Regions from separate parts of the Homo sapiens genome. Here all the other regions are reported to be linked to region 1. Evidence: microRNA targets listed by miRTarBase, many of them from high-throughput screens and not tested one by one. Region 1 holds a microRNA gene; each other region holds the end of a gene's coding sequence.
What was found. The annotated mature microRNA hsa-miR-523-5p reads CUCUAGAGGGAAGCGCUUUCUG and lies in region 1 at 2,787-2,808, opposite strand. An mRNA with a match to its seed (bases 2 to 7 or 8) in the 3' UTR can be bound and repressed. Matches are read on the target gene's strand: a 7mer-m8 pairs with bases 2 to 8, a 7mer-A1 pairs with bases 2 to 7 and ends in A, and an 8mer does both.

Region 2: the mRNA of RPL41 is a reported target of hsa-miR-523-5p. Seed matches in the 3' UTR shown: 7mer-A1 at 5,098-5,104.
Region 3: miRTarBase lists CCNG1 as a target of hsa-miR-523-5p. Seed matches in the 3' UTR shown: 7mer-A1 at 3,406-3,412.
Region 4: miRTarBase lists ULBP3 as a target of hsa-miR-523-5p. Seed matches in the 3' UTR shown: 7mer-m8 at 3,001-3,007 and 7mer-m8 at 3,014-3,020.
Region 5: miRTarBase lists PPP1R3E as a target of hsa-miR-523-5p. Seed matches in the 3' UTR shown: 7mer-A1 at 2,939-2,945.

Annotation. Positions count from the first base shown.
Region 1 is chr19:53,694,779-53,701,207 of GRCh38, reverse strand. It overlaps MIR523 (microRNA 523), which reads right to left and starts at 2,823; the gene lies at 2,737-2,823. It overlaps MIR519B (microRNA 519b), which reads right to left and starts at 5,995; the gene lies at 5,915-5,995. MIR525 (microRNA 525) reads right to left here and starts at 3,675; the gene lies at 3,591-3,675. MIR518F (microRNA 518f) reads right to left here and starts at 1,193; the gene lies at 1,107-1,193. It also overlaps LOC107985346.
Region 2 is chr12:56,116,318-56,122,746 of GRCh38, reverse strand. RPL41 (ribosomal protein L41) reads right to left here and starts at 6,114. Exons shown (of 3, transcript NM_001035267.2): 1 at 5,948-6,114; 2 at 5,536-5,558; 3 at 4,780-5,265. The coding sequence starts at 5,959. The coding sequence ends at 5,223. ZC3H10 (zinc finger CCCH-type containing 10) reads right to left here and starts at 4,481. Exons shown (of 3, transcript NM_032786.3): 1 at 4,429-4,481; 2 at 3,596-3,659; 3 at 1-2,236. The coding sequence starts at 2,184. The coding sequence ends at 880. RefSeq lists an enhancer at 595-1,592 and a silencer at 4,757-4,806.
Region 3 is chr5:163,440,927-163,447,355 of GRCh38, forward strand. CCNG1 (cyclin G1) reads left to right here. Exons shown (of 7, transcript NM_004060.4): 3 at 152-405; 4 at 960-1,038; 5 at 1,119-1,217; 6 at 1,448-1,642; 7 at 2,748-4,090. The coding sequence ends at 1,639. NUDCD2 (NudC domain containing 2) reads right to left here. Exons shown (of 4, transcript NM_145266.6): 4 at 5,600-6,429. Among named protein-coding and RNA genes, the nearest start is that of CCNG1, 6.5 kb to the left of the region's middle.
Region 4 is chr6:150,059,037-150,065,465 of GRCh38, reverse strand. ULBP3 (UL16 binding protein 3) reads left to right here. Exons shown (of 5, transcript NM_024518.3): 3 at 1-68; 4 at 753-881; 5 at 2,115-4,413. The coding sequence ends at 859. Among named protein-coding and RNA genes, the nearest start is that of ULBP3, 6.9 kb to the left of the region's middle.
Region 5 is chr14:23,296,520-23,302,948 of GRCh38, forward strand. It overlaps PPP1R3E (protein phosphatase 1 regulatory subunit 3E), which reads right to left and starts at 6,340. Exons shown (of 5, transcript NM_001276318.2): 1 at 5,641-6,340; 2 at 4,779-5,339; 3 at 4,239-4,345; 4 at 2,882-3,022; 5 at 1-2,398. The coding sequence starts at 6,057. The coding sequence ends at 4,917. RefSeq lists an enhancer at 4,787-4,976 and silencers at 5,037-5,466, 5,477-5,536, 5,617-6,126.

The sequences.
Region 1 (6,429 bases):
TGCTGTGGCACCGTGGATTTTTTGTTGGAATCTTCCTTAACCAGGTTAAAATGGACTCGAAAAGAAAGATGCATTTATTTGCCCTGTTTTCTATTTGTGTGTTTTCTGGAATCCAGAATATAAACCCCTAAAAGGACAATCTCCAGTTCCTTCCTTCAAAGAATCAGCAGGTTAGCCTTGTTTATCAAGGGGCAATCCTCCTGAGTTTTGTCTGCAAGAGAAAGAGCAATACCTGCTAGACATACCTTATCTTTAACCAAGGGAACTGGGCTGGATTTCTAGAGAACAGCAATGGACGGAGAGCCAAGTGTTCACCTGAGTTTCAGTACAGGGACACACAGTCCCCATGCAAGCATCCAAAATGGAACATAACATACTGAAGAATATACATTGTCATAGACACAAACATTCTCCAGAGAGACCACAGGCTATACCATAAAAGCTCCCCAATAAAATTTGAGCAGAAACACACAAGTACAGGTGGGGCACGGTGGCTCATACCTCTAATCACAGCACTTTAGGAGGCCGAGGTGGGAGGATCACTTGAGTTCAGGAGTTCAAGACCAGCCCAGGCAACATGGAGAAACCATGTCTGTACAAAAAATACAAAAGTTAGCCAGGTGTGGTGGTGCATGCCTGTAGACAGCTATTCAGGAGGCTGAGGTGGGAGTTGGAGGTTGCAGTGAGCCGAGATTGCACCACTGCACTCCAGCCTGGGCGAAAGAGTAAGACTCTGTCTCAAAAATAAATAAAGGAAATTACAAAAATTAGCCGGGCATGGTAGCACATGCCTGTAATCCCAGTTGCTTGGGAGGCTGAGGCAGGAGAATCGCTTTTACCCAGGAGGCAGAGGTTGTAGTGAGCAGAGATCCTGACACTGCACTCCAGCCAGGGCCACAGAGCAAGACTCTGACCCAAAAAAGAGGGCCACTTGAACCCAAGAGATCTAGGTTGGAGAGGGACCACCACACTCCAGCCTGGGCAACAGACACCCTGTATTAAAAACAAAACAAAACAAACATGAAACACCAACATCATCCACGTCTGATTATAAGCATTCTCTGCAAATTTATTACCAAGATAAGCATCAACTTCAACGTTGCTTTTCTCAAAGAGTAATCCTCTAAAGAGAAGCGCTTTCTTTTCTTTTAGACAAGAGAAAGTGCTTCCCTCTAGAGGGTCACAGCATGAGATCTTCTTGCTCCAACACTCTGGGTTTTTTGTTGGAATTTTCCTTCACCCGGTTAAAATGGACACAAAAACAAAGATGCATTTATTGGCCCTGTTTGCATGTTTTCTGGAATCCAGAATATAAACCCCTAAAAGGACCATCTCCAGTTCCTTGCTTCAAAGGATCAGCAGGTTAGCTTTGTTCATCAAAGAGCAATCCTCCTGAGTTTTGTTCTCAAAGAGCAAAAGCAATGCCTCATAGACATATGTACCTTATATTTAACCAAGAGAACTGGGCTGGATTTCTAGAGAAGAGAAATGGATATTGAGCCAGGTGTTCACCAGAGTTCCAGCACAGGGACACACAGTCCCGATGGGAGCATCCAAAATGGAATCTACGATGTTAAAGAATATACATTGTTGTACACACAAACATCCTCCAGGGTAGATCACAGGCTAGGCCCTAAAAACTCCTCAATAAAATTTGAACAGAAACACACAACTACAAGTGGGGCACGGTGGCTCACACCTCTAATCCCAGCACATTAGGAGGCTGAAACTGAAGTATCACCTGAGCTCAGGTGTTCGAGACCAGTCTCGGCAACATGGTGTAAGCCCATGTGTATAAAAAATACAAAACGGAGCCAGGTGTGGTGGTGCATGCCTGTAGACACTAATTCAGCAGGCTTAGGTGGGAGGTAGAAGTCGCAGTGAGCTGAGAGAGATGGCACAACTGCACTCTAGACTGGGTGACAGAGCCAGACCTTATCCAAAAACAAATAAAACATACACTCACACACACACAAACAAACAAAAAAAACCCCAAAGTGATATAAGAGTATTCTCTTCATGTAGAAGAGTATTTTGCACGTATATGGTATTATATATATAAGAATATATAATGGCCGGGCGGGGTGGCTAATGCCTGCAATCCCAGCACTTTCGGAGGCCAAGGCGGGAAGATCACCAGAGGTCGGGAGTTCGAGACCAGCCTGACCAACATGGTGAAACCCTGTCTCTACTAAAAATACAAAAAATTAGCCAGGCGTGTGGTGCATGCCTGAAATCCTAGTTAGTCGGGTGGCTGAGGCAGGAGAATCACTTGAAACTGGGAGGCGGAGGTTGAAATAAGCGAAGATCGCACCACTGCACTCCAGCCTGGTGACAGAGTAAGACTCCATCTCAAAAAAAAAAAAAAAAAAAAGAAAAGAAAAAAGAAAGAAAAATGCAAGTATTAGCCAGGCGTGGTGTCAGGTACCTATAATCCCAGATACTCAGGAATCTGAGGCAGGAGAACGGCTTGAAACTGGGAGGTGGAGGTGGCAGTAAGCTGAGATCACGCCACTGCACTCCAGCCTGGGTCACAGAGTAAGACTCTATCCCAAAAGAGAGGACCATTTGAGCCCAAGAGAGCTAGGTTGGAAGTGCCACCACATTCCAGCCTGGGCAACAGAGATCCTGTCTTAGAAAAAAAAAAAAAACAGAACCCCACCTTCATCCAAGTCTGATGATAAGCATGCTCTGCAAATGTATTAGCAAGATCAGCATCAACTTCAATGCTGCTTTTCTCAAAGGGTAACCCTCTATAGGGAAGCGCGTTCTTTTCTTTCAGACAACAGAAAGCGCTTCCCTCTAGAGGGTCACAGCATGAGATCTTCTTGCTCCAGCACCCTGGGTTTTTTGTAGCAATTTTCCTTGACCAGGTTAAAATGAACACAAAAATAAAGATGCATTTACTGGCCCTGTTTGCATGTTTTCTGGAATCCAGAATATAAACCCCTGAAAGGACCATCTCCAGTTCCTTGTTTCAAAGGCTCAGCAGGTTAGCCTTGTTCATCAAGGGGCAATCCTCCTGAGTTTTGTCTCCAAAGAGAAAAAGCAATGACTACTAGACATACCTTATATTTCACCAATAGAATTTGGCTGGATTTCTAGAGAACAGCAATGGATTTTGAGCCAAGCGTTCACTTGAGTTCCAGCACAGGGACACGCAGTCCTCACAGGAACATCCAAAATGAAATCTAAGATGTTGAACAGGCCTGGCGTGGTGGCTCACGCCTGTAATCCCAATGCTTTGGGAGGCTGAGGCAGGTGGATCACCTGAGATCAGGAGTTCAAGACCAGCCTGACTAACATGGTGAAACCCCATCTCCACCAAATACAAAAACTGAGCCGGGTGAGGTGGCGCATGTCTGTAATCCTAACTACTCAGGAGGCTGAGGCAGGAGAATCACTTGAACCCAGGAGGGGGAAGTTGCAGTGAGCCGAGATTGCGCCATTGCACTCCAGCCTGGGTGACAGAGTGAGACTCTGATTTAAAACAAAAAACAAAACAGAAACCCACCATCATCCAAGTCTTAATTATAAGCATGCTCTGCAAATATATTACCAAGATCAGCATCAACTTCAACGTTGCTTTACCCAAACCGTAACGCTCTAAAGGGAAGCGCCTTCTTTTTTTTCACATAAGAGAAAGTGCATCCCTCTGGAGAGTCACAGCTTGAGATCTTCTTGCTCCAGCACCGTGGGTTTTTGGTTGAAATCTTCCTTCACTGGGTTAAAATGGACACAAAAATAAAGATGCATTTATTGGCCCTGTTTCCATGTTTTCTGGAATCCAGAACATAAACCCCTAAAACGACCATCTCCAGTTCCTTGCTTCAAAGGCTCAGCAGGTTAGCCTTGTTCATCAAGGGGCAATCCTCCTGAGTTTCGCCTCCAGAAAGAAAAAGCAGTGCCTACTACACATACCTTATATTTAACCAAGAGAATTGGGCTGGATTTCTAGAGAACAGCAATCAATTTTAAACCAAGTATTCACTTGAGTTCCAGGACAGGGACACTACAGGACAGACCACAGGCGAGGCCTTAAAAGCTCCTCAGTAAAATTTGAACAGCGGGAGGATCACTTGATCGCAGGAGTTAAGAGTCCAGCCTGTGGAACGTGCTGAAACCTCATCAGTACCAAAAATACAGAACTTACCCAGGGGTGGTGGTGCCTGCCTGTAGACACTAATCCAGGAGGCTGAGGTGGCAGGTGGAGGTTGCAGTGAGCCAAGATCTCACCACTGCCCTCCAGCCTCAGCGACATAGCCAGGCCCTGTCTCATAAAAATTAAAACAAAATACACAAACAAAAACAACTCCAAAGTGATATAAGAGTGTTCTCTGTGTATAGAAGACTATTTTGTGTGTATGGAATTATACACAGAACATTGTGATGAAATATACTCATTTTTTTTTGAGACCCTGTATAAAAAAAAACCAAAGTTCCATATACTATATGCTCACATAAAGCATAATTCCCACATATTGGTGCTTTGACAGCACACACAAATGAATGGGGTGACAGAGATTTCCATAGCCCCCGCACATAGGTGACACCCAAATTCATAATGGGTCCCATATTCAAAATTAGGAAAAAAGGCTGAGTGCAGTGGCTCATACCTGTAATCCCAGCACTTCGGGAGGCCTACGTCGGCAAATCACCTGAGGTCAGGATTCAAGAATGGCCTGGCTAACATGGTGAAACTGTGTCTAAAATACATATATATATATAGCTGGTATGGGGGTACATGTCTGCAATCCCAGCTACTTGGAAGGCTGAGGTTGCAGTGAGCTGAGATCACACCACTGCAGTCCAGCCTGGGAGACACAGAGAGGCTCTTTCTCCAAAAAAAAAAAAAAGAGAATTGCTTGAGTCCAGGAGGCAGAGGTTGCAGTGAGCCAAGATCACACTAATGTACTCCATCTCGGGTGACAGAGCAAGACTGTCTCAAATAGTCAAAGACAGAAAAAAAGAACAGGTCTCGCTCTCTTCTTGATTGTGTATGGGCTCACTTAAGGTCAGGAGTTGGAGACTGGGCTGGCCAACATGTTGAAACCCTGTCTCTACAAAAAAAAAAAAAACGAACAAACAAAAAAAACACAAAAATTAGCCGGGCGTGGTGGTGTGCGCCTGTGATCCCAGCTACTCGGGAGGATGAGGCAGGAGAATTGCTTGAACGTGGGATTGTGCCACTGACCTCCAGCCTGATGGACGGAGTAAGACTCTGTTTCAAAAATCGATGAGTAAATAAATAAATAATAAAAATACAAAAATTAGCTGGGTATGGTGGCTCATGTCTGCGATCTCAGCTACTAGGGAGGCTGACTCAGGAGAGAATGGCTTGAATCTGGGAGGTGGAGGGTACAGGGAGCGAAGTTCCTGCCACTGCACTCCAGCCTGGGTCACAGAGCAAGACTCCATCTCAAAAAAGAGGACCGCTGGGCACAATGGCCCACGCCTGTAATCCCAGCACTTTGGGAGGCTGAGGTGGGTGGATCTTGAGGTCAGTAGTTTGAGACCAGCCTGGCCAACGTGGTGAAACCCTGTCTCTACTAAAAATACAAAAATTAGCTGGAAGTGGTGGCAGGCACCTGTAGTCCCAGCTACTTGGGAGGCTGGGGCAGAAGAATTGCTTGAACTCAGGAGGTGAGCTTGCACACAAGATCGCGCCATTGCACTCTCGTCTGGGTCACAGAGCAAGACTCCGCCTCAAAAAAAAAAAAAAAAAAAAGAGGACCGTTTGAGCCTAAAAGATCTACGTTGGAAGTGCTACCCTACTCCAGCCTGGGCAAGAGAGACTCTGTCTTAGAAAAAAAAACAAAATAAAAACAGAATCCCACCATCATCCAAGTCTGATGATAAGCATGCTCTGCAAATGTATTACCAAGATCAGCATCAACTTCACTGTTGCTTTCCTCAAACAGTAAACCTCTAAAAGGATGCACTTTCTTTTCTTTCAGACAACAGAAAGCGCTTCCCTCTAGAGGGTCACAGCATGGGATCTTCTTGCTCCAGCACCCTGGGTTTTTTGTAGAAATTTTCCTTGACCAGGTTAAAATAGAGACAAAAATAAAGACCTATTTATTGGCTCTGTTTGCATGTTTTCTGGAATCCAGAACATAGACCCCTAAAAAGACCATCTCCCGTTCCTTCCTACAAAGGCTCAGCAGGTTAGCCTTGTTCATCAAGGGGAAATCCTCCTGAGTTTTGTGTCCAGAAAGAAAAAGCAATGCCTACTATGCATACCTTATATTTAACCAAGAGAATTGGGCTGGATTTCTAGAGAACAGCAGTGGATTTTCAGCCAAGTGTTCACTTGATTTCCAGCACAGGGACACACAGTCCTGATTAGAGCAGTCAAAATGGAATCTACCATGTTGAAGAATATACATTGTTGCACACACAAACATCCTCCAGGATAGACTACAAGGG
Region 2 (6,429 bases), not on the chromosome of region 1:
AGACAGAGACCAGAAACAGATGGGACTATTTTTAAAACTAGACTGGGTGGCTCCAAAGCTTTTACCCCATAAAGTGCCTTCCCCAAAGCCCCATTTGGTCTTGTTCTGGGTCCCTACCCTTCTTCACTGGCTTCTATCCATCTTACCAAAGCTATGTGAGGCTGGGGTCTTTATCCCATTTTGGCATGAGATCTATTTACTGCTCCCATCTTCCACACAGAATAGCTAAGCAAGTTTTCACTGCCTCCATTTGTTAAAAATAATTGTTCTTTTATTTCTTTGGAAAGTAGTGGGCCCTGCCCTATGGATTTTCAGGTCAAACTAGGGTAATGAATGCTCCCCTAGTCTTTGGGCTGGAGCACTATGGTCCCAGCTTTCCCAGGGCCCAGAAGCAATTCCTGTATTGTCCAACCCAAGCAACTAGGACCCAAATTGTCTGAAGGCTCCTATCAGGCCTTCTCTCCTGACCACCCACTTCCCAATCTTTCCTGGCTTTCCCTCTGGGCAGGGTATTTTTTTCTTCTAAAACCAGTGCTGGAACCTGTGCTGTGCAGAAGAGAGGACAAGACGAGGGATGTTCCCAAATTCCCATAAGAGGACACAGCCCCTCAGTCAGTCCTTCCTCTCTGCTGGCTTCAGTCTGCACTCCTCTGCAAGCCCCCACTGTGAGGCTTGAAGATGGACAAGAGGACCCTCATAAAAGGGAGGTGAGAGAAAACACACCATCCCAACCCCTCCTCAGGACATACTCCTTGTAGTCTCTTGTCCTAGTTCTCAAGGGAGCCCTTCAGACAGGGATGGGGAAGGCTAGGTGAGTGGGCAAGGGCCCCCTGACCCCAGCCCTGCGAGGCTATACCAGGGGAGTGTCCATTAGCCCCATCAGTGTGGCATGGCCGTGATGCGCATGCTCTGGGAAGCGATAGGGTAAGTCACCATGGGAGTGGTGGTGTGGCTCATTGTGATTCCTGCCAAGGGTTGGGCCATCGATACAGCCACAGGGGCCACAGGAGCCACAGATACAGCCACAGGAGCCATGGAGACAGGTGGAGGTGCCATTCCCTGGGCAATTGTTTGAGCCAGGGCAGCTGACAGTGGCGTGATCTCTGGGGTCAAGTGTGGGGGTGGGGGTGGTGGAGCAGCAGGAGGTGCAGCATTAGTTGGGGGAGCAGCTGGAGCTCCAGCAGGGGCCACCAGTTCTTGCTGGGACACTGGACGAGGCTGTAGAGCCTGGCTGCTGAGAGTAGTGTGAGTCTGGGCAATGCCATGGTTAAAAGTGGCAACAGTGCCCACAGTGGGGGCCAGAGTCTGCTCAGTCGCTGGTGCAGTGGAGCTCAGGGTTATGACCTTGGCCTGATTGCGGAACTGAGCATTTTGTTCCAGTAGTACCTCATTGGTGGCCAGCAGGTTGCTGACCTGCTTCTTTAACTCCTCTACCCGCTTCCTGAGCATGGCATTCTCCTCCTCTAGCAGTCTGCACTCCACCCCTCGCGGTGGAGCCAAACTATATTCATATGACTCAAAATGAGGGCCATCAGGGGGGCAGCATCCACCTCGCCGGCGTTTTGGGCCTGGCTCATGGTCCTCAAAGCCCCTGTCAGGAAGGTCATAGATATCATAGAGATCATGACGTCGTCCTGGGAGGACTGAGCCTGTTGAGCCCCCACCAGTGCCTCCTCCACCCCGAGCATCAAACTCAAAATCCCGTTGCAGGTGACGGAACTTGCACTTGGCTCCTCTCTGACAGTCACCCTTGAGAAAGTCACGGCAGATAGGGACCTCCTCCTTGCCATTTGGTAGGTCAGCCGGTGAAAGGCCAAGGCCAGCTGCTACTTTCTGCCTCAGCCGTGGGGGAAGCTCTCCTGTCTTCTTATAGCCATCCTCATCCTCCTTGGAGCCATGGATGAAACGGCAATTTGGGCGGCTACACTCCTTGTTCTGGAAGTCATGGCAGAAGATGAACTCGTTTTTGCTCACCCCCAAGTTGGACACCTCGCTCATGTCTGGGTGGCGATATCGGCAACGCTTGCCTCGCTTGCACACATTCCTCAAGAAGTCTCTACAGATGGCATCTGAGCTGGCCCCGCCACTGCCTACCCCTGCCCCACTGGCCTCCTCGCTGCCACCACCTCCAGGGCCTCCACCGCTGCTCCCGGTACCGTTGGCATAGCTGTCCCGGTCAGGCATCCTGGTCCCGCCCAACTCAGGGTTTTCTTTATCTTGCCACTCTTGGTGACCACTACAAAAGAGGAGAACTGTATCAAACAGGAGTCCTCCAGGGAGATCCCACTCTTCCTGACTATAAAGCAGGTGGCCCAGAGGGGCAATGGCTTTAGAGATGGAGAATCTAAGGGATAAGAATTCTGGCTGAAATGTCTGACTCATCAAAAGCCCCTCCCAGGGTTTTGTGCACCTGGTCTGGGTCAGAATGATTCACACTTGCCTGGCTAACGGAGGAGGGATAGGCCCAGGACGGAGCAGGGAAAAAATAGTGTTGGAATTCATCTTTCCTTTTGAGCTGACCTTATTAAAGTTGTGGAAGTGAAATTAAAACTGCAGTCAGTATCTGAATAGTCTGGAAGGAAACTGGGAATAGTGCCCAAGATGGGCTACTGAGCTACTAGGGCTGTAGAAGATGGGACACTGGTAACAAAACTTCCTTAACCCCCTTTCCTTTTCCTCAGGTAAGGGCTCTGTACACATCAAATCTCTAGAAGCCAAGAAATCCTGGGTGAAGAGACTGGTGTCACCAGCTTGAGGGGAGTCTCAAAACCTGTCATATTTTAGTATTCCCTCCCAGCCATCATCACTGTCAACGGCAGAGAGGTAAGCCCCTTCTATTTCAGGATAGGAGTTCTAAGTTAGAGTCTCCACTTCTAGATTTCCTAGGACAAACCATTTGTGATAAGGTCAAGTGGGAAGGAGTTAATTTCACAGGAACAAGTGACCTTTCCCCATTCCCCACCCCCTTCCTACTCCCCTATGTGAAGATCCCACTGACATCCAACCACACCATTCCTCAACCCAGAAAGATCCTCTTTATTTATAGACTCCATAAAAGCTTTTTAAGTCTCCTATTTCCCAAGAGAGCTTTGGAATGTCAGTCCACTGCCCTGGTTCTAGCCCTCCCCTCTCTCCACCCCCAGTAAGACCTGGAGTCCCTGCTACCACGTGTCTGACCTCCCAAGCCTTTCCTATGCGGTGTTCAGGCTCCCCCTGCTGCTGAAATAGGAAAACTTCATATTGTTCCCTTTGAGAATAAGGGAATCTTTCCTAATTCCTTTGGCCTTGACCTACCCCCACCCCACTACTGTGACTTTGCCTTCAGATCTCCCTAAAATGAACTAACCAAACCAGAGGCCAGAGTTACAAGAGAATCTGTAAGAGGGTCCTCCTCCTCTAAAGAGAGGTAGTCCCAGAATAATAGAAGCAATCAAGGAAAGAAGTGGTAAAAGAAGATACAAACTTTTAGTAAAGGGGAATGACCAGGTGAAGTACAAATGCCATCTATCCAAGCCTGGCTCACGTTGCAAGTCGCACCAGCAGCAGATAATTAGTTATGATGCTCCTCCCCACCCCACTCTCCCAGAATTGATACCTGAGGTAGCTCAGGTGAAGTCCGGGGCTCCTGTGGGTCTCCACCTCCACATCACTGCTGGGTTCTGAGCAGGAAAAAAACAGAGACTTGGGTGGAAGAAGGAGTAAGAGTGGAGGACTATGGGGTGGTTGTCACAAGAAATCTGACAAAACGGCAAAGCTTCGAGAACGTGAGGATTTCCTCAGGGTTCAAACTGAACTTCACCTGTCCAAGGGAGAAGTTGCCAGTAAGAAGAGTAAAACTAATTCGGAGGGACTGGGAGGAGGGGTTGGAAAACCAGCCCTGAGTGAACAAAGAGTGCGGGGCGCCCTGCCTCAAGATGAAAGAGGATGTGAGGGTCAGAGCACCGCCAAGGGCTGGAGTTAGTAATGGCTAGTGAGGAACCTCAAAAAGGCAGCGTCTGACAGTGCATTGGGATGGCCGATTAGACTTGAAGGCAGTGATTGTGACGCTTCCCAACACCCTAGAGTTTGCGAAAGAAGTCCTAGGAGTTTTCCCGCAGCAAGTCTTCTAGCTTGGCAGGTTCCGTGCAGTGCCGCCGGCGCTCAGCCGTGGGCTACGTGAATGGGACACTAAGGGCGCGCGAAGTGAAGCGGGGAGCTGGAGCTCCAGGTGTCATCAAGCTGAGGGGATGGGCAGGGTTGTGACGTCACGAAGCTGGCGTTTGCTCGCGATGCGGGGTCACTCAGAAAAGGGGCACTGCCCTGGGGTGTGAGGACGAGCCAGCTCGGTTCTGGGGGGCCTTCTGTGGCCTGGCCGAGCCCAGCCGCTGGGCCGGCCCCGACTCCTCCCCTCCGGGCGCGGCCTCCACCTAAGTCTCCCGCCTCCCTCACCTGCCGCCGCCGCCGTAGTTGCTGCTGCCGCCTGCCGGTCCTCTAGCTTCGACAAAGAGCCGCCTACCCGATCGCTCTTCCGCTTCCTGCGGAAGAAGTGACGCTCTAGCCAGCAGACCCGGAACCATACTCTATGGTGTATGAAGTACGCGTGCGACATGCCGCAGGGCGTTCCCAGCACGCTTTGCGTGTCACTATGGCAACCCAACCCAAAGGCACGACATGGTCTAAGCGGTAGTCGCCAAGGCAGCCCTCCTGGAAAGGGGCGGTACCAGCATTGGCCCCTAATAACCCGCGAAACCTAAAACCTGCCTCCAGAGACGTACCATATCCCATCCAACTCCAGCGAGATGCAAACCACACCACGTAACCCGGGCTGTTGCCTTTATAGCTTTGATACCCTCCATAGCACAGGTAGTGACAGGGCAAACTCTAATGACAGAAAACCCCCACCCGATGGAACCATAAAAAACATAATAGACAAGATGATTTAATTCTTCAGCTAAAACAGCGGAAGAGGTGATTTATTATATGGTTGTTACACTCGGCCACAAATAAACACAGAAATAGTCCAGAATGTCACAGGTCCAGGGCAGAGGACCAACATGGGCATTTTGTTTATGAGCAAGGTGGGTCTCAGAGGTGATCGGCGATCAGAGGGCGATGAAGTTCTAGATCCATTGAGACAAGCTCTAGACAGTAGCATGCAGTCCCACAACTTGTACCAGCATCCCCAGCGTCTGGCATTCCATGTTTCTGCTCCTGTGGCCTCCACGGTGCAACAAGCTAGCGGTTTACTTGGACCTCTGCCTCATCTTTCTTCTTTTGCGCTTCAGCCTGAAAAGCAGACACAGGAATGGAATACACCTCAAACCAGAGTTGCCTTTCCCTCCCACATTAAATCAAACGTCCACATAAAGAATGAGGTGGTAAAATGAACAAGCACTACGGTTCTATCGTTCTCTGTTCTGTTAAATCCTGGCTCCAGGGAGAAAACACTCAAACGTTTTTCTCCTAAAGATCTTTTAAGATTTCCAAACCAAATGTTTCTCCTAAGTTTTGTCCAAGGAACTTCCCTCCTCCTGGGCTGGCAAAGTCTCAACGTACCTGCGCATTCGCTTCTTCCTCCACTAGCAACCGATCACAAGCAGCAGATAATTAAAAAAAAAAAAAAAAAAAAGGGATGAAGCTTATTAGTAGGCTTAGCAAGGATATGAAATGCACTCTTTAGAACCGGACAGATTCTTAACCAAGAAGTATGAAAGATTGGTCGTAACAACTACATCAGTAACTTGGACACCCTCCCAACATAAGATCAGAATTCCACCCTTTTCTAAGCCCACCCTCTCTACCCATAGCACTTAACCGCTAGCTCTCTCACAAACTACCTTCTCTCTCCCACCAGCTCTTGGGCACCCTTGAAACCCAGTAGTTCAGGAGGTATGGCGGACTTGCCTTCGTCTCCTCGCTACTACTCGCCAACTCCTACCTCCCAAGCTTACTACCAGGAACCGCTCACCTTGGCTCTCATGGCGCAGAGGTTTCTACAGGGAAAGAGAGAAAGGCTACAGTTAGTTTGCTGTGATGATGCTAAGTGCCGAGGTCAGATGTCTATGGATTGTACACGGAATCCCAACGCAGGAACCAAAAAACACTCACCCAAAAAAATGGCGCTAAGGCCGAGAGAAAGGCGAAGTTCCGTCTACGGCTATTTAATGGAGCGCCGGGTGTCGTCACTTCCGCTTTCACGCCCTTTGCCCCCCCCAAGGGCGGGGCTACCCAATGGGCGTAACAGTGGTTTTCGGACCCTCTTGTAGAAGGGTAGGTTGAGTTAGTTCTTTCGGAAGACCGAGTATTTGGTTTTCGAGTTACCAGTTCCCCCCCAGATTTAGTATGAGGACGCTGTGTTATTTAAACGTCAGCACCTATTTCCAATATTGGACCTAGAGGTGCAGACGGGGAAAAAATAGTGACCGCCACCTTCCCTCGCATTGCTTCTTG
Region 3 (6,429 bases), not on the chromosome of region 1:
TGAGTGGATTGTGTTAAGTCCATCACAGCTGAGAAATAAACCTCAAATATACATTTTCAAAATGTTGGGTCGGAGTTCTAGATTATCCTTTATGTTTTAATTGAAATAAGGTAGAGTCATGGGCTTACTGGTTTTGTTTTTGATTTTTTAGGTACAGCCCAAGCACCTTGGGTGTGTTGGACTGAGCTGCTTTTATTTGGCTGTAAAATCAATAGAAGAGGAAAGGAATGTCCCATTGGCAACTGACTTGATCCGAATAAGTCAATATAGGTTTACGGTTTCAGACTTGATGAGAATGGAAAAGATTGTATTGGAGAAGGTGTGTTGGAAAGTCAAAGCTACTACTGCCTTTCAATTTCTGCAACTGTATTATTCACTCCTTCAAGAGAACTTGCCACTTGAAAGGTAAGTGACCTTTGTTTTGAACAAGAGACATTTGGAAATCAGAATGGTATTGTATGGATATTGCATAAAATCAGTATCCTCATAGAATTCTAATAAAAATAAGTAAAATGACAGCTGTGGCTCCTTGAACTTTAATGTCCATCATAAGTGAGAAAATGTTCCATTGTCAATAGCTTCGTTAAAGCTAATTCTTGGGATTAAAGTACATTTTGACTTTATAGAACCTAGTAGGAAAGCATCTAACACAAATTTATGGAAAAAAAGGACCTTCAGTGGATGTTGAAATATTTATTAAAACTAAAAGAAAATAAATCTTGTATTTGTGGCATAGTACTATTCATTTTAATTTTTTGGCCCAAATCATCTAAAACTCCCATATGGTGCCTTTAGAAGTTAGTATCTCTGATGGAAGGGGAATTCCTTTCAATAGTTCATTTGCTATGTTAAGTGTGCATAAGCTTTACTTTAAAAATTGACTTCAATGTTTTTCTAAAAACATCTTTTGACTAGATGTAGTATTACCTAATAAAAGTAATACCATTTTCTTTTTAAAGGAGAAATAGCATTAATTTTGAAAGACTAGAAGCTCAACTGAAGGCATGTCATTGCAGGATCATATTTTCTAAAGCAAAGGTAAATATTTTATAAAGATTATGCCTATTGATATGATCTGTTTTTATATTTGGCATTTACTTTAAATTTATCTCTTTTAGCCTTCTGTGTTGGCATTGTCTATCATTGCATTAGAGATCCAAGCACAGAAGTGTGTAGAGTTAACAGAAGGAATAGAATGTCTTCAGAAACATTCCAAGGTATGTGAAGGACATAGCCTAAATCCTATTAACAGCTGTAAAAGAAACTAAACCCCTTCTATCTCCTGAAGTAAAATGAGATGTCATATGTTTATTTGAAACTTAAGTAGCTATCCTCAAATGTTTTTAATGAGCAAAGACACATGTTCATAGGATTGCATTTATTAATGTAGTTAAATAAGGTGGGACTTACTTGGAGTAATAATTTTTTAAAATTTATGTATGTACAGATAAATGGCAGAGATCTGACCTTCTGGCAAGAGCTTGTATCCAAATGTTTAACTGAATATTCATCAAATAAGTGTTCCAAACCAAATGTTCAGAAGTTGAAATGGATTGTTTCTGGGCGTACTGCACGGCAATTGAAGCATAGCTACTACAGAATAACTCACCTTCCAACAATTCCTGAAATGGTCCCTTAACTGGTAAATTTGGTCCGTTATTATTCTCCAGATAGAGAACATTTTCCAATGCCATAATTTTCAACTAAAGAAGAGTAATTATCTTCAAAATAAACAAAATGGAGTTGGAATAGTAAAGGGGGAGATGACATCACTGATCTAGTCAGCTAATATTTGAAGGCCTTTACTATATACAAGGTACAACATCTTAGGAGTAAGGAATTATCCAACCTCTGATACATACGTTAGCCATTTCATTAAATTTTCAGCTTAGAGAACAGCATCCTCCTTGTAGCACTAAAATCATGCTTTTTTTTAATTGCACATGATCTTGCTGTATGTATCTGACTGATTTAAAATTACATAAGCTGAGCAGGACAACAGCACCAAAAGTCTGAACCAAGTATGAACTAATTTGAGACTGTTAGCTTATAAGCAAAATCAATATGAACTTGGATATTGTACTTAAAAGAAAAAAAAGTAGGCCGGATGCAGTGGCTCACGCCTGTAATCCCAGCACTTTGGGAGGCCAAGGCGGGCGGATCACGAGGTCAGGAGATCGAGACCATCCTGGCCAACATGGTGAAACCCCGTCTCTGCTAAAAAATACAAAAAAATTTAGCCAGTCGCGGTGGCGGGCGCCTGTAGTCCCAGCTACTCGGGAGGCTGAGGCAGGAGAATGGCGGGAACCCGGGAGGCGGAGTTTGCAGTGAGCTGAGATCGCGCCACTACACTCCAGCCTGGGCGACAGAGCAAGACTCCGCCACAAAAAAAAAAAAAAAAAGAAAAAAAGTAGGATATGATAGATGGTCTCTACATTGGGTATCTGGAAACTGCCAGAGTGTGTCAACACTATACTAACCTATCATTGCTATAGCAGCTGGACTACTGCAAAGTAGTTATATGCATAAAAAATGTAAACTTGCTTTCTGCATATGTGATATACATTCTTGCCATATAAATTTCCTAACTCAGTGATGATTTATTCTACTCAAAACTAAATGTTAACATTTAATACATCTACATGTGATTATGAATATTAGATATGAACATTTCAATTTTCTTAGTAGTATTTAGGCAGACTGGCTTCTGTTAAGTTGGATTTTGTTTGTTTTCTTTATTTAAATAGGATTATTACAGCACCAAAAAACTTCTCTGAAGCCTTTCTCCACAACCTTGTTCTATGGATTCCATAATGTTACAATGGATTTAAGCTATGAAGCCTCAAAACATCACGAGATAAGCATGATGGTCTCAGACTTGGGAAAACTGCCTAATATTATGCTGTAGTGGAATTATGTTTAGATTTGAATTCATCTGTGAAGCATTCAAATCAAAGCTAAAAGCCTAAATGTGAAATGCTAATGACAAGCCTGAGAAGGTAAACTGTGAATCTTCATTTCTATCATTGATCTAACTTTAGATATTGGATCAATATATTTAGGTGGTATTGAAAATGCTATTGGAGGAGTCACACTAATACTATCAACTATCAGTCTTCCCACAGCTTCAATCACTGTCATTATTCTAATCCTACTCCTACTTAAATTTTAAGTTATGAGGTTTATGTCAAAAGCAACATTTCACAAATGTACTTTTAAGGCATAATAAGGGTTAACATTCTAGGCAGTATAAACACACCCCATAATGCAAGTAATAGGTAATCTAGAGATGTGGACTTTATTGCTATATGGGAATTACATTTAAATTTGAGGGCATTTTATATAAAGAAAAATACAGACCTATAAAGTTTGGCATATTCATTAAGTTATCTTTTAATATTTTTTTCTAGAAAACAGGTGACATTTGTATCTACGATAAAAATTTTTATACAGAACCTACTGCCTCAAACTGAATCCCATCAAGAAAACTAGTTTCTATTGTATTAGTAACTCAAAATAAATTATCACTTCGAAAACTTGCTTTCCCACACTAAGGTAAGTTCAGACTAGATTGAACACTCCAGAATTTTTTACTACAGACTGTTTTTAAGTTAGAAGTGATGGCAATTTTATAAATAGAGAATATACTTCCACTGATGCCCTTACTGTGCCAAAACAAAAATCTTAAGAAAAGCAAGTAGACACCTTCATAACTATGAATGAAGCTGCTGAAGTAGTGTTTAGGATCCTCCATGGCAGTTAGTGAATGTAAGAAGTACAGTGTTAAAGTGTTGTAAACAGTTACTCAGTGCAATGTATAGCCTGAGTCTATCCATGATGGCTATATCCAATTTGACATCACGTTATGGATCAGTACACAATGAAAAACCAAAGAACCACAGTATATCTTATTCTTAACTTTTGTAAACCATGTTTTATGGGTAACTTTTTAGTTTTCCCAAAAGGCTGATAAATTTCAATATTTTGAATACATCATTGTTAATTTTGAGTTGGCAGAGGTAAACTAACCAACTACCATTATGTTTTAGTACTAAGGGATATACCTTTCAATAAAGTTAATGAAATTCAATCCTTTGCTGGGTGGCTTTTTTCTCCTCTGATTTAATTAACTCTTTTAGCAATGTGTTAACAGAACATTATAAAAAGCTATCTCTACTCAGTATATTTAAATTTAGTACTAAAGTTAGATGCATAGTACCAGAAACAATAAAATCCCTATTAATAATATGACTATTAGATGACACTTTACTTTGTTTTTTCTGAAACATTATAAAAAGCTCTCTCTACTCAGTATATTTAAATTTAGTACTAAAGTTAGATGCATAGTACCAGAAACAATAAAATCCCCATTAATAATATGACTATTAGCTGACACTTTGTTTTGTTTTTTCTGAAACATTATAAAAAGCTCTCTCTACCCAGTATATTTAAATTTAGTACTAAAGTTAGATGCATAGTACCAGAAACAATAAAATCCCTATTAATAGTATGACTATTAGCTGACACTTTACTTTTTGTTTTTTCTGAGACAGGGTCACTCTTGTCACCCAGGCTGGAGTGCAGTGGCGCGATCTTGGCTCATTGCAGCCTTGGCAGCCCAGGCTCAAGAGATCCTCCCACCTTAGCTTCCGAAATAGCTAGGATTATAGGCACATGCCACCGCACCCAGCTAATTTTTTTTTTTTTTTTTGTAGAGGCAGTGTTGTCACTGTGTTGCCCAGGCGGATCTCAAACTCTTGGGCTCAAGTGATCTGCCCACCTCGTTCTCCCAAAGTGCTGAGATTACAGGCATAAGCCACCGTGCCTAGCCTCTAATGTTTTTTTAATAGACATAGAATGATGACAAATAATTGTTTAATGTGTATTAAAAGTTGGTGTTTATGCATTATTAATCCCTTTTATCACTTAGATTCATCACTGCTATGGATGCTATCCTTAATATATATTTACTTTTAGTTTCAGCCCACTTGAAGTTTTGTGCCAGCCTTCTTACCTAATTAAACAACACTTCAGCAGCGTGGTTGCTAATGCCAGGTAACCACCATGTGTTATGTTAGCCTGCTTGGATCAATTGTAATTATTACTGGAATTGAATTAATTAATATGATTTTGAACAGTTCATGTTCAAACTAACATCCTGTAAAGTAGACACTGCAAGGAGTTACTGATGAAAGAAAAGTTGTTCATAAAAGAAGCCTCCTTTTATAATTGACTTGCCTTAGACTTATTTAATAATGTTTCATAGTATTTTTTAAAAAGTATCTGAACCTTGTACATATTTACAATTATGAGACATCCTATCTAAAAATTTATATTTTCGATTTAACATTTGTGGCTGGCAGTGATAATTTTTACTCTCTGGTACTATGAATCATCTCATTAAAATCCTCTCAACTGAATGACATTATCCCAATTTGCAAATGAAAGAGAGACAGAGAACCTAATGATTTGCCCCTGGTCTATACCTGGTACTTGGAGGTAGGATTCAAAGCCAGGCAGTTCTGACTCCAGAGGCTGTGCTCTTAACCACTCTATACATTACCTCTCAAAATAAAAGATTAATTGGACTCAAGTGAAATTGCTTGTATAATTTTTAATCAAAACTATATGCTGGCCACATTAACTTCTGTGCTGTCATCATGATCATAGAATAATAACAACACTCAATTTATTTCTCTATACTAATAACTTTGATAAAATGTTATTATTTATTAAATCTATTTTTCAGAAACCAAAAAACAGTAAACATGAGTCAAGATGAATTAAAAGATAAGCCAATTTTTAAGGCCGAGCGCAGTGGCTCACACCTGTAATCCCAGCACTTTGGGAGGCCAAGGTGGACGGATCACTTGAGGCCAGGAGTTCGAGACCAGCATGGCCAACATGGTGAAACCCCATCTCTACTAAAAATACAAAAATCAGCTGGGTGTGGTGGCGCATGCCTGTAGTACCAGTTACTCCAGAGACTGAGGCAGGAGAATTGCTTGAACCTGTGAGGCAGTGAGACAAGATCACACCACTGCTCTCCAACCTGGGCAACAGAGTGAGGCTCTTGTCTCAAAAAATAAATTAAAAAGCCATTTTTATATTCATCAAAGTAGAGTTAGGAACAACCAAAATTGCCAAGGATAATTAGGGACATTATATAATGATAAAATTCACCAAGACAGTGCTAAAAGTGTAAGCACTTATTATCAGATCTTAAAAATACATGAAGAGACCAGGTACAGAGACTCATTCATTCCTGTAATTCCAATGCTTTGGGAAGCCAAGGTGGGAGGATTGCTTGAGGCCAAGAGTTCAAGACCAGCCTACTCAACATAGGGAGACCCTATCTCTACAAAAAATCAAAAATTAGCTAGGCATAGTGATATACATCTGTAGTCCTAGGTACTGAGGAGCCTGAGG
Region 4 (6,429 bases), not on the chromosome of region 1:
AATGAGAGACTGCAAGAGCTGGCTTAGGGACTTCCTGATGCACAGGAAGAAGAGGCTGGAACCCACAGGTAACTGACAGGGGAGCACTGGGAGCATGTTGGAGATGCCATCGAGTTACACCCTTGTCTGTCAGTGTCTGAGTATGGTGGGTGTGGGTGTATGGGTGTGAGTGGGTGTGAGTCTATGTATGTGTGAGTGTGAGTGTGTGTTTGAGTGAGTGTAAGAACATGAACCCCTCATGGGGGCCTCCTCCTTGGGGTGCCTATGCTCTCCCTCCTGACTCCTCTTCCTCACTGCACTTGCTTTTGCTCCACTCACTGTGGATTTCTCACCAGCCTCAAAACTGTGGGCGTCATTGTGTTTCTAGACCTTTCTCCTTAGATTTCCCTCCTCCTAGGATCACTTTTCCTTTCCTCTCCCTTGGTTTGTTTCTGGAAATCCATCAAAACCACCTCGAATGGCAGCCCCGAGACTCTCCTGTCCCGGCCCTAGGGCATCACCTCCTCTTCCGCCACAGCAGGAGGGTGGGCTGTGCTGTCACCTTGCTTCCCTCAGCAGCTGTGTGAGCTCCCTGAGGACAGGGAGCACCCCTTCTCCCTTCCTACCCCCAGGACCTGTCACAGCGGCTGCCCCACAGCAGGGGAGACAAATCCTCTGCCTTCCCGGATGACCTGGGGTAGCAGGAGCTAAGGAGCCATCTCCTCAGATTTGGAGCGTGGACAAGAGTTGTCACTTTTGTGTTTCCCTTTCAGCACCACCCACCATGGCCCCAGGCTTAGCTCAACCCAAAGCCATAGCCACCACCCTCAGTCCCTGGAGCTTCCTCATCATCCTCTGCTTCATCCTCCCTGGCATCTGAGAAGAGTCATTTAGAGTGACAGGTACTGTGGGCAAAACTGTGAGGGGAACGAGAGACAGATGGGTGAGGTGGGAGGAAGGGAAAGGAGAATTTCCAGAGTCCCACCTCTCCCCATGGCCGGGACCTTCTCGTTCTGACATGAGACAGGTGAATGAGACCTGGTGTCGCCTGTTTGCAATGACCTGGGCAGCTCAACCTTGAGTTCTGATGGATTCTCACCATCAGGGCCAGAGGGAAAGGGAGGGACCCATATCAAGGCTCAGGGCCGGTTGAGTTCAAGAGGGTTTAGACAGTTCAGGCCTATTTCACAGCAGGTTTCTATCTGGGAAGGGTAGTGGTGTGTGGCCTGCAGGCAGCAGGAACTCAGGCATGGGCAGTCTGCACAGTAGGAGAGGAGTAGCATGGCCACTTCACCAAGGATGTCAAGGGAAGGGGTGTCCCTGGAGGAGGCTAAGAAGAGAGAAACCTGGGGGAATCCCAGGACGAGGGGGCTGTGAGGGCCTTGGCCCACCCAGTTCCTAAGGCTGCATTCCCAGAGAGAGCACCTTGAGTCCCAGCAGTTAAGGTGGAAGGTGAAGAGTAGAGCGTGTCCAGGATGAGGTTTAGGAAATGGCCGAGCCCCTTGGACCCATGGGATTCCTGGCTAGGCCCTGGGACGATGCCACTGCCATTCTGCCTCGTGCACACTCCAGATCCTGAGCCAGCTGATGGCCCTGCCTGGAGCAGAGTGGACTCAGCTAGGGCAGCTGAGCTGCTGCTAGAGGTCCGTGGTCACCACTGAGCTTGGCCAGGAATGAATGGGGCAGGGCAGGGACAGTCCCATTCAGAGCTATGGGTGCAGCTCCCAGGGTGAGGAGAGGCTGAGAGCGAAGGAGAAAGAAGGTTTGCCTACAAACCCACCCAAGGCCAGGGAACATGGATCCAGAGACCTCTCTTTGGACAGGGCTCCCCCAGGTCCTCTAGACCCTTCTATGAAAGGGAGGAGCAGGCCCTGAGTGAGGGTGCAGACCCCTCATTACCAGCCTCAGGTCTGAGCCCCTATGGGCTGTAACAGGACCTGGGCTGCCTCTGTGGTGTGGTGAAGGAGGGTGGAGGTTGGGAAAGGCTGCACAGCCAGGGGTAGGGTTGGAGGGAAAAACATGTTCCTTATCTGGGGGAGAAGCTCTGAAATGGGGAGGGCCTGGGAAGGATCACCCAGGAGAACAGACCCAGGTTTTTCTCAGCCACTTAAACCAATGCTTCATCTTTCCTCAAGGTGGAAGGTGATATCAAGAAGCCTCTGTTAGCCTGGTCTGGTTCCTGCTCTCCCTTCAGGGAGGCCGCCTGTCTACTCACCACTGTGCCTTTCTGGAAAGCAGGAGTTCAAGCCTTAGCAAGCCCAGAGGCCCCCAGCAGATGATGAGGACATTGTCGGCTCAACATCTCAGGCCACTCATTACCTTCGCTCATGATCCCAGCAGCCATTTTTCTTTTTTTTTTTTTGTTTTTTTTTTTTTTTGAGACGGAGTCTCGCTCTGTCGCCCAGGCCGGACTGCGGACTGCAGTGGCGCAATCTCGGCTCACTGCAAGCTCCGCTTCCCGGGTTCACGCCATTCTCCTGCCTCAGCCTCCCGAGTAGCTGGGACTACAGGCACCCGCCACCGCGCCCGGCTAATTTTTTGTATTTTTAGTAGAGACAGGGTTTCACCTTGTTAGCCAGGATGGTCTCGATCTCCTGACCTCATGATCCACCTGCCTCGGCCTCCCAGAGTGCTGGGATTACAGGCGTGAGCCACCGCGCCCGGCCAGCCATTTTTCTTAACACCTTCTGCCACTTTCTCTCGGTGCTAATGGATGGAATTCCTGCACAAGTTTTAACTGAACAAGAAATCCCAGCAAAAGGCATTTTCTTTCTACTTCTTTGATTGTGGAAAAGCAGACATTTCTCTGAAGCATGACCTTATTCTTCGAAACGGTATTGCTAGTAAAATAGCATGCAGGACTTCAGACCTCAGGGATCCTTTCCATGCACTGACCAAGAATTGTATTAATCCTTTTTATCATTATAGTTTTTTTACATTTTCTCATTCTGTCAACCATATTGGAGTGAAGTGGCATAGTCATCACTCACTGTAATCTCCAACTCCTGGGCTCAAGTGATCCTCTAGACTCAGCCTCTAGAGTAGCTGGGACTACAGGCGCATGCCACCATGCCTGGCAAATTGTTTTATATTTAGGTAGAGATTGGGTCTTCCTATGTTGCGCAGGTAATAAAACTGTGAAAATCCTGGAATATAAGCTAAGAAATACCAATGTGGACATAGGGCCTGGCAAAGATTTCATGAAGAAGACACTAAAAACAATTGTAACAAAAACAAAAATTGACAAATGGGACCTCATTAAACTAAAGAGCTTCTGCACAGAAAAAGAAACTAGCAACACGGTAAACAGACAGCGTGTAGAATGGGGAAACTATTTGCAAACTCTGCATCTGACAAAGGTCCAATATCCAGAATCTACAAAGTACTTAAACAATTAGACAAGCAAGAAAAAAAAACCCAATTAAAAAATGTGCAAAGACATGAACAGACACTTTTCAAAAGAAGACATACAAGTGGCCAACAAACGTGAAAAAATGCTCAATATCACTAATCATCAGATAAGTGCAAATCAAAACTGCAATGAGTTACCATCTCTTACCAGTCACAAAGTTGGAGATGGTGGTGAGGCTGCAGAGGAAAAGAAACAGACACTGTTGGTGGGAAAGCAAACTTGTTCAGCCGCTATGGAAAGCAGTTTGGAGATTTCTCCAAGAACTTAAAATAGAACTACCATTCAAGCCTGCAATCCCACTACTCGGGATATATCCACAGGAAAAGAATTCATTTTATCCAAAAGACACCTGCACCAATATGTTCATTACAGTGCTATTCTTACTAGCAAGGACACAGAATCAACCTAAGTGCCCAGCAACACTGAATTGAATGAAAAAAATGTGGTACATAAACACCATGGAAATCTATGCAGCCACCAAACACAGCAAAATCATGTCCTTTTCAGCAACATGGATGGAACTAGAGGCTATTATCCTAAGCAACCTAATGCAAGAACAGAAAACTACATACTGCATGTTCCCATTGGAAAGTGGCAGCTACACATTGAATTCACATGAACCAGAGGCACTGGAGATTACTAGACAGGTGAGACAGGAGGGGCACCTGGGCTGAAAAACCACCTGTTGGGTACCATGCTTACTGTTTGAGTGATGAGATCATTGGGACACCAAGCCTCAGCCTTCCAAAATCTACCCATGTAACAAACCTGTATGTGTACCCTTTAATCTATAATAAAGGTTAAAATTAAAGATTCGTAAGTAAAATAAAATGACATAGAGCCCTCCAAAAAATGGGGTTAACTGAGTGGAACGAGAGAACTTTGCACTATGAACGCTAACCCAGATCAAAAACTAAACTCTAGTCATTTAAAATAATCGTAAGTTGTATATGATGATAATTGTATAAAAGTTATACGTGAAAGTGCCAAACCCTAAAATTAAACACTGCATAATGAAATTATACAAGATTTCCATTTCCATCTTGTTCTTTATACCCTTACTTTTTTTTTTTTTTTTTTTTTTTTTTGCCAGTTTCAAGTGACATTTTTTTTGTTTATCCTCAGGAAATCCTTGCTGTCAGCCTTCTCCTTCTACACCCACCCCCTCCTTTTCCACCGTCCACATCAGCTCTTCCTCTGGTCTGGGACTGTGGCATTCTTGGCACTGAAGGCACAAGAGCTGCATTCAGCCTCAGGAGAGAGGAGGACACAGGGCAGGTTGTGGAGGTGGTCTCACCATTGGAGGGGAACCTAACAGCTTAGGCCCTCTATCACAGATGGCTGTGTTTCTCCACCAGGTTAGCTACAACCAAGCCAACCTTGCCCCTTTCCTCATTGTTTTTTTTCTAATTCTTCCCAACTCGTACTTGAAAATTTATATTCTTCCTCCTAATATTTCTTCGTATTTCTTGTCTGCACAATATATCCTGATTTATTGTGCCCAGAAAACAGTGGACTCACCATGTCCGTGACAGCTGCAAGGACACAGTCTCCACTCACTGGAGGGGCATGCTGGGCTTGGAGCCCCTCAAAAGCCCCTGCCCCAGAGAACTCTATTTGACTAGTCTGGGACTCACTGGAAAAGCCCCATTCATTGGGTTTGTCATTATTTGACCAGCTGAGGTCTCTCTCTAGGGGAAAAGCCAGATCCTCAGACCACTGGCTAAAAGCAATCATTCCAACTGTACAACCTCACCGTTTGCATGTGGGACAAACAAGAGACTAGTGGGGGAAATTGAGAGAAAGATTTGGGGAATAAGATGTGCATAGGGGCCGGCACGTGCCCAGGAAGCACCTGAGAAGGCCACATCTCTGACCTTTGGCTGACCTGGAGGCTGTGTGCAGGCAGGAAGTGGAGCTGCAGTGGTGACATCAGCTGCCCGCCTGAGTGCGGCAGGGGCAGGAGTGCACCACACACACAAAGCCCTCCGCACTGAGGAGAGACTTACCGGCTCAAGGCATTGATGCAAACCTCTATCCAACCTCACCTAACTGAGCAGAGACTTCAGGGTCCACCTGTGACAGGGAATACAGATGTTATAAGATCCATCCAGGAAAGTCAGTAAACAAGCAGCAGCAACACACCTTGAAGAGAGGGGACATCTGATTCTCAGAGATGCCACGTTGTATTCTTGTAAATGTTCAGTTTCATCTCAAAAAACATAAGATGTGCAAAGAAGCAGGGAAGGATCCCCAGACACAAACAAGGAACCAGCCCTTGGAACTGTCCCCAAGGAAGCCCAGCCATTGGCCTTAGTGAGTTACTTAATGTCACTCCGAGGCGATGGCAGTCAAGGGGAGACTGTGTGGAGGAGGCTGTCCAGCTTCCTTATTTCCATGGAGGACTCAACAGATGTGGTGCTAGAGACTGAATGTCTGTGTCCCCCCAAACCTAATCCCCAATGTGTACTAGGAGGGGGAAGTTTGATAGGTCATTAGGTTTTGAGAGAAAAGCTTTCAAGAATGGGGTTGGAGGGCCAGGCATGGTGGGGTCGTACCTGTAATCCCAACATTTTGAGAGCCTGAGACCGGAAGATCACTTGAGGTCAGGAGTTCAAGACCAGCTTGGCCAACAAGGTGAAACCCTGTTTTTGCTAAAAATACAAAAATTAGCCATGGTGTGGTGGCAGGCACCTGTAATCCCAGCTACTCGGTAGGCCAAGGCAGGAGAATCACTTGAACCCAGGAGGTGGAGGTTGCAGTGAGGCAAGATCGCGCCATTGCACTCCAACCTGGGCAACAAGAGGGAAACTTTGTCAAGGAAGGAAAGGGAAGGGAATGGGAAAGGGAAAGGGAAACTGAAAGGGAAGGGAAGGGAGAAGGAAGGAAGGAAGTTAGGAAAAAAGGAAGGAAGGAAGGAAAAGGATATAAAAGGAAGGAAAAGAAAGAGAAAGAAAAGAAAAAAGAAAACATGGAAGTAAATCCTTGTGACGTCGGGTTTGGCTAAGGCTGCTTAAGTACTGTATGCCAAAGCACTA
Region 5 (6,429 bases), not on the chromosome of region 1:
TAAAAGTTTTTGTAGAGACAGGGTCCCACTATGTTGCTCAGACTGGTCTCGAACTCCTGGGCTCAAGCAATGCTCCTGCCTCAGCCTCCCAAAGTGTTGCGATTACAGGTATGAACCACCACACCGAGCAGAGACCTGTTTCCTAGCCTGGGAATGGGTGATCAGGAGGCCTGAGTTTAAGTCCCATCTTGAGCTGCACTAACAAATTCTATGACCCTGCTAGAGTCATTTCTCACCTCTGGACCTGTGTTCTCATCTGTAAAGGAGCCAGGAACCAATGACGTCGGAAGAGAAGCCTTTTCATGTCTGATTCTATGACCTGCAAACTGCAAAGATCCCAGCAGGCTCCAGAAAAACACGGCAGTTAGAAACAAGGGAATGTGGGTGTTAGGTGGAAAACTGAGGAGCTAGGGCTCATGATGAAATGTTTTTCTACATTCACAAAGAAAAACAAACAAACAAAAAACAGGACGGAGGCTATGGGACAGGGAGGTGTAGGAAGACACCTGCAGTCTGGATGAGAGGAATGGGCAACAGTGTCCCTGCTGGGTTGCCTCAGGGACCCAAGCCTATGACCCAGGTAGTGTTTTCTCTCACGGCACTTCCCAGTCCACAGCTGACATGTTATATTCCAAATTGCTCCTGTTCATATAGTCATGAGCCATCAGAGGAGTTTCCACTACAATGCCTAATGCGTAACACATTAATAGGGTGGCTGAAGATTCCGCTAAACTCCTAGTGTTCCCCGTGTCAGATTAGACTGCACCCGCTGGGAGAAAGCAGTGGATGCAGCTCTGTCCATGCACACTCAGCTTTGCTTACTGAGGGTGTGAGAAATACAGATGGAAGTTTTGGAAGAGCAGTGCAAGACGGAAAGGGCATACTGCCTAATCTTGGTTGGTTTGCAGATGGTGGGGTTTGTGGTAGTGCCGGATCAACTCAACCCAAGGTGAGGAAAAGCCAGGGGGTTGGGAAAATCTCAGTGCTGAAGTCCTGGGAGAGGAGTACACACCAAAGCCATCAGGGCAAGGAATCTCTCCAGAGAGCCGCGAAAGCACCAGGCACTCAGAAGCCACTCAAGAAATATTAGTTTCCTCCCTATTTTACAAGGCTTGGTAGCACTGATAGTTTTGTGTCAGGTTCCAAGGAGACACCCACTATTTGTGTGCCTAAGAAGTAGCTCAGCCAGACCCAGCCTTGAGGCAGTGGGGCAACTAACAGCTTACCGAAGCCCTGGGGCAGCTTGATATGGGAATAATCAAGACCAAAATGTTGTTCTATAAAGCTGAGATTGGGGAGAGTGAGCCAGGGTACTTCTGAGAAAGAGGTCAGGGAACAGGATTATCATTAGCATTCTGCCCACAGAGTTGGCACTTACCCAGTAACATCGGGATTCCTAGAAAAGGCCCAAGCACAGACCCTCTAGCAGGTGTCCTAGTCACGGACCCAACCTAGTGGCGACATTAGGGGGTTTGCCTGTTCAAGGCCAGTGGGGGAAGAGGGAGGGAGGTGGCACACCAACAGGTGTGGAGCGCTGGCTAGGGCCAGGAGAGAATTCCAATGTATGGAAAGGCTAGAGTGTAAGTGGGAAGGTGAGGGGGGTCCTGTGCTGATCCTGCATAGATGGGACACTGACACAGGAGACAGCAGCAAACTCCTTCGAGTCACAGATGAAGCTCGGGGGCCCCCTGTCTTCTCCAAGCCAGTCCAGGAGATTGGCAGGATGGGAAGGCAGAGCACAGTCAGAAACTATGATCATTTCCTAATAAGAGATTATAGCAAGGTTTTAAATTTTGTTTTTAAAGAGGAAAAAAAATATAACATCATGGTTACACAGAGGCTCTGGAGATTCCCTGGGTTCACAATCCTACTTCTGCCATTTACTAGCTGTGCGATCTTGAACAAATTTCTGAGCTTCTCTGAGCCTGTTTCCTCATCTCTAAAACAGAGATAATGACAATGTTCTACTTACAGGGTTGTTTTGGGCATGCATGCAAACAAAACAGATTTTATGATCGAGTCATAGTTCTGGAAAGGAAGAAAAACCCAGATTTGCGCACACAAGTGTTAAGTAAATGTGAGCCCTCACTATTGTTCATACAACATGGCAGTGACACACATACATTAGACAAGAGATTATTACACACTGAGCCTCCACCCAGTCTCCCTATTATCCTCCCATGGGCTCCTAATTGATGACTAAACAGTGCATTGCTGGGTGGCTTCCAGTAGTTTCTTTCTTCACTTTGCTGCAACTTTGAACTGAAGGTGATCCACATGGTACATGACATTCTTCCTGTTTTCTTCACAAGACAAGGATGATGTTTAAATGGGCATTTGTTTGCGGAATGACTTGGAGAGTTCCTCTCTTTCAGCCATCTTTTCTCAAAGACTAAGGCTGTGGACAGGATGGGCATGGTAACAAGCCAACAAGCCTCATACTCTATTCTTTTTTTTTATTTTTTGAGACGGAGTCTCACTCTGTCACCCAGGCTGGAGTGCAGTGGTGCAATCTCAGCTCACTGCAACCTCTGTCTCCCCGTTAAAGTGATTCTCCTGCCTCAGCCTCATGAGTAGCTGGGACTACAGGCATGAATCACCATGCCCGGCTAATTTTTGTATTTTTAGTAGAGACAGGGTTTCAGTATGTTGGCCAGGCTAGTCTTGAACTCCTGACCTCAAATGATCCACCTAACTCAGCCTCCCAAAGTGCTGGGATTACAGGAATGAACTACCGCCCCTGCCCCCACACTCTATTCTGAATGCATGTATGGGCACATGTGCATGCCTGTCCCCTTTCACTCAGTGATAAGGAAGAAGGGGAACCAGAAATTTCTGTTTGAGAAATTAGTAACAGAAATGGGTGTGGGGAGCTGGTTACCTGGGAGATCCTTGTTCATTTGTAACATCAGGAACTGCTTCTTTTCCTCCTTCTCTCTTCTAGAAGACTGTCAAGGAGCCCGAGTGAGGGAAGCAGACCAACCATGGTCTTGGAGAAAAGAAAATAGGGTTTCCATCCCTTCTGGAGGGAGAAGGAATAGCAGAGATGAACATGAATGAAGAAGGAAACAAATGGAAATAAACAAAATGAAGGTAAATACCCTATATGTTAAAAGAAAAAAATACCCTATATGTTAAAAGAAAAAAGAAAAGAGAAGGAAGAGACACAAGGAAAGAAAGAGAGAAGCAAAGAGGTTAGGAATAGGGTAAGAGAAAAGGAAAAACAGCAACCAGCAGAGGAATCACTCCCCTGTTAAGGTTAACCAGGAGGAGAGGCTTATATAAGGCATGAATGTGAGTGGGTATGAGAGTCCAGCTTTCCCACTGCACTTGCTCTGGTTATGGAGCAGACTGCCATCTTCTGGTGCCATTTACTATTCAAGTTGCTTTGGTGTTTTTTTGTTTTTGTTTTTTTTTTTTTTTTTTTTTTACAACCAAGTGGATTGATTGAAATGCTTTGATTCTTCATTTGAAATGTTTCTATTCCATATACCCATTATCTTTTATCCTCACAAAAGCCCTTAACATTGTTTCCTTTAATCTTTGGGGTTCTTAAGCATCATTTCCACCAACAGAGATGTACCTACCCACAGTTGTCTCAGAGCATGGAGGCTGAAAGTCTGTGAGGACAAGAGTGAAATGGAGCAGAGGATAGGCTGTGGTTTGGAAGCGGCTCTGGAATACGCTGGGGGTGGCGGTGGGGCTGAAGGTTGGTTATGGGATGCTTCCTGGGCTCCGGAACATCTGTGCCAAAAACTGGAGGACCCATCCTCGGCTCCAGCCAGACGCTTGGGGTGCTATGTATTCTGAACCATAGCACTAGGTTGGAAAATTTGGCTCCTAATCTATACTCTGCCATGTACAGATCACAAAATATCATACAAGGAGCCTTAAAAGGTCATCTAACCTAAATCCAGTTTCCCAAGGAGAACACTGGGGCACAAAGAAGTGAGAGGTAACTCGCCCAAAGTTATATAGCTAGTCAGGGACTTCCTCTTCGGAGACAAAGGAAATCAGAATAGTGATTCTTCTGATTCACCGTCCCTCGACAAACAGTCCACAAAGTGCTTGGAGGTTATTAAAAGGCACCCCAGAAAAGTAAGGCTGGCATTTTCCTGGAAGCCCCTGAGTGTACAACCCCTGAGGCTCAGTATTTGGCTATAAAAACAGGTCTGGAGTTGCTTTGGCCTCCGTTTTAATCCCTAAAGCTGCCTGGAGGCTGGAGCTCTGATAGCTACCTGTCATCACTCCCCAGCCAGTCCGCGGACACCGCAGCCAGGAACTGTCAGAGGTGACAAGGGAATCCCGTCATAATGCCAAGGACCAAGGAGCAGTGGCCAGGTTCCTGGGATTAAGCAAGGCAATTATGGCTGAGTTAAAGCTAGGATGGGTAGGACAGGGGGATCTGAGGTGGAAAAGGCCGGTAAGAAGAGGGAATGCGCCAGCAATGTAAATGCCTTCGACTGGGTGGGCTACTTCACATCATACCTCCTCCATCTCCAAAAGGTTCTTAACCTTCTTCAACCGCCTAGGCCTGATGGACCTCCTCCCTTTCTCCCAGAGCCCACTCACTGAAGGGAAGGCCACCATCATCCCCATTCTTTTCCTTTTTTTATAATCCCTCCGGTGCCGTTTCGGGTCTCCTTCCTCCTATATTCTGAGTTCCTTCCACTCACATCCAACCAGCTTTTAACACCCGGATCTCCCGGAGCTTCTTTGGTTCCGCTCACTCCCCCCGCCCCCACGCCCCCACGCCCCCACGCCCCTGATTTCCCCACCCTTTTCGCCCTCCCCGGCTTGACTCCCTTGGACCGCTCCCGCCAATCCTGGTCTCTCCTACTCCTCCCCGCCACATCGGGTCGCCCCGCCCCCGGGTGCCTTTGGTGTTTTCCGCCGTCGGCCGCAGGCGCCTCGTCTCAGATAAAGTGGATCCAGCCCTGCGGCTCCGGAGCTCCGCCACTGCCCGGGTGCTCGGGCCCACGTAGAGCATAGTCACGGCCGCCGTTGTTGTCCCAGAACTCGTGACCTGTCACACGGTAGCGCAAGGCGAAGAGCAGGGCGCCCCCAATCGGCGGCGCGGGCAGGCGGAAGGCGAAGCGGTCGGCGCGCGGCGGGGGCGGGGCCGGACCGGCGTAGGCGGCTGGCGCCTCGCGTTGGCTCCGCCAGCCGTCGGCGCTCCAGCGCACGCTCACGCGCTTCTCGTAGGCCAGGTCCACCACGCGCGCGCTCCCGGCCACGCCCAGCGGGCCCGCCTCGGCGCGTTCCAGGCAGATGCGCTGCGTCAGCAAGCGGGCGGCGAAGCCGGGCTCGCTGGCCGGCTCCAGGGCGGCGCGCGCCTCCTGGGGGAAAGAAGAAGCGGGAGGAGGGAGCCCAGGGCGGAGAGAGGGGAGAGACAGGGGGCGGTGTCAGAGCAAGGCACTGGACCAATCAGAGGCCGACCCCGGCGTCCAGGCCGGCAGAGTGCGGCCCAGCTGCCAGGGTGGCCTAGAGCCACTCGCAGATGGGGTCCCCAAAAGGGATGGGCAGGCGCAAGCCCAGGGATGGGATGGAGATGGGTGCTCTTTGGCAAATCCACTCCCACAAGCCCGCTGCGGCCGACTGGAGGAGGTCCCCAGGAGGGGAGGTGCCCCCGCCGCCTACCTGGAGGCCGCGGGCGCGGGGCTGGCAGGGCGCGAAGTGGCGGAGGGCGTCCCTCTGCAATTGGATCTGCACGTGGCGGGGCACCCGGGGCAGCTCACCGGGACGGAAGCGGCGCACGACAGCCAGCTCCAACCCCAGTGCGTCGGCGAAACGCACTCTCTTGCGGGTGTCTGGGCTACGGCTGCGGGGCGCCCGGGCCCCGCCGCCTCCGGCTGGTGCAGATCGGGCCCGGCGGCCCCGACTCGGTGCGTGAGCGCGGGATCGGGCCCCGAACCGCGTCCCGCCCTCGCCTGGCTCCTCCTCCGGCTCCTCCTCGAGGCTGGGCCGCTGGCTACGGTAGTAGGCGCGCTCCGTTAGCGCGGCGATGAAGCTCAGGTTGCGGGGAATGTCGGTGCCCGGGGGCCGCTCACGGGACATGGCAGCCCCTTCCCCGGCGGGGCCAGCTCGCAGCGCCACCGCGCTCCCCTCTCTTCCTCTCTCCCGCCCGCCCCGCGTCAGCGCAGAAGTCGCTGGGTCCGCTTCTGCAGCCCCTCGCTGCTGTGTATTCTCCTTGCAGACACCTCCAGGATCCTCCACCTCCCGTTGCTTTGCCTCTCCTCTGTGACCACCCTTCCCTCCCTCTGGCCGTCAGCTTCCAGGGTCTTAGACTATCACATCCTGCCTCCTGCTAGCGGTCTGCTCTGAGCGTGCGCTCAACTGCACTCACCCTCCGGTTCCAAGGCCCTCACGGCCCGGGCGCCCCCGCCCACAGCCCTCTGACAGGTGGCTCCGCTTGTCTTCGCTGCTGCA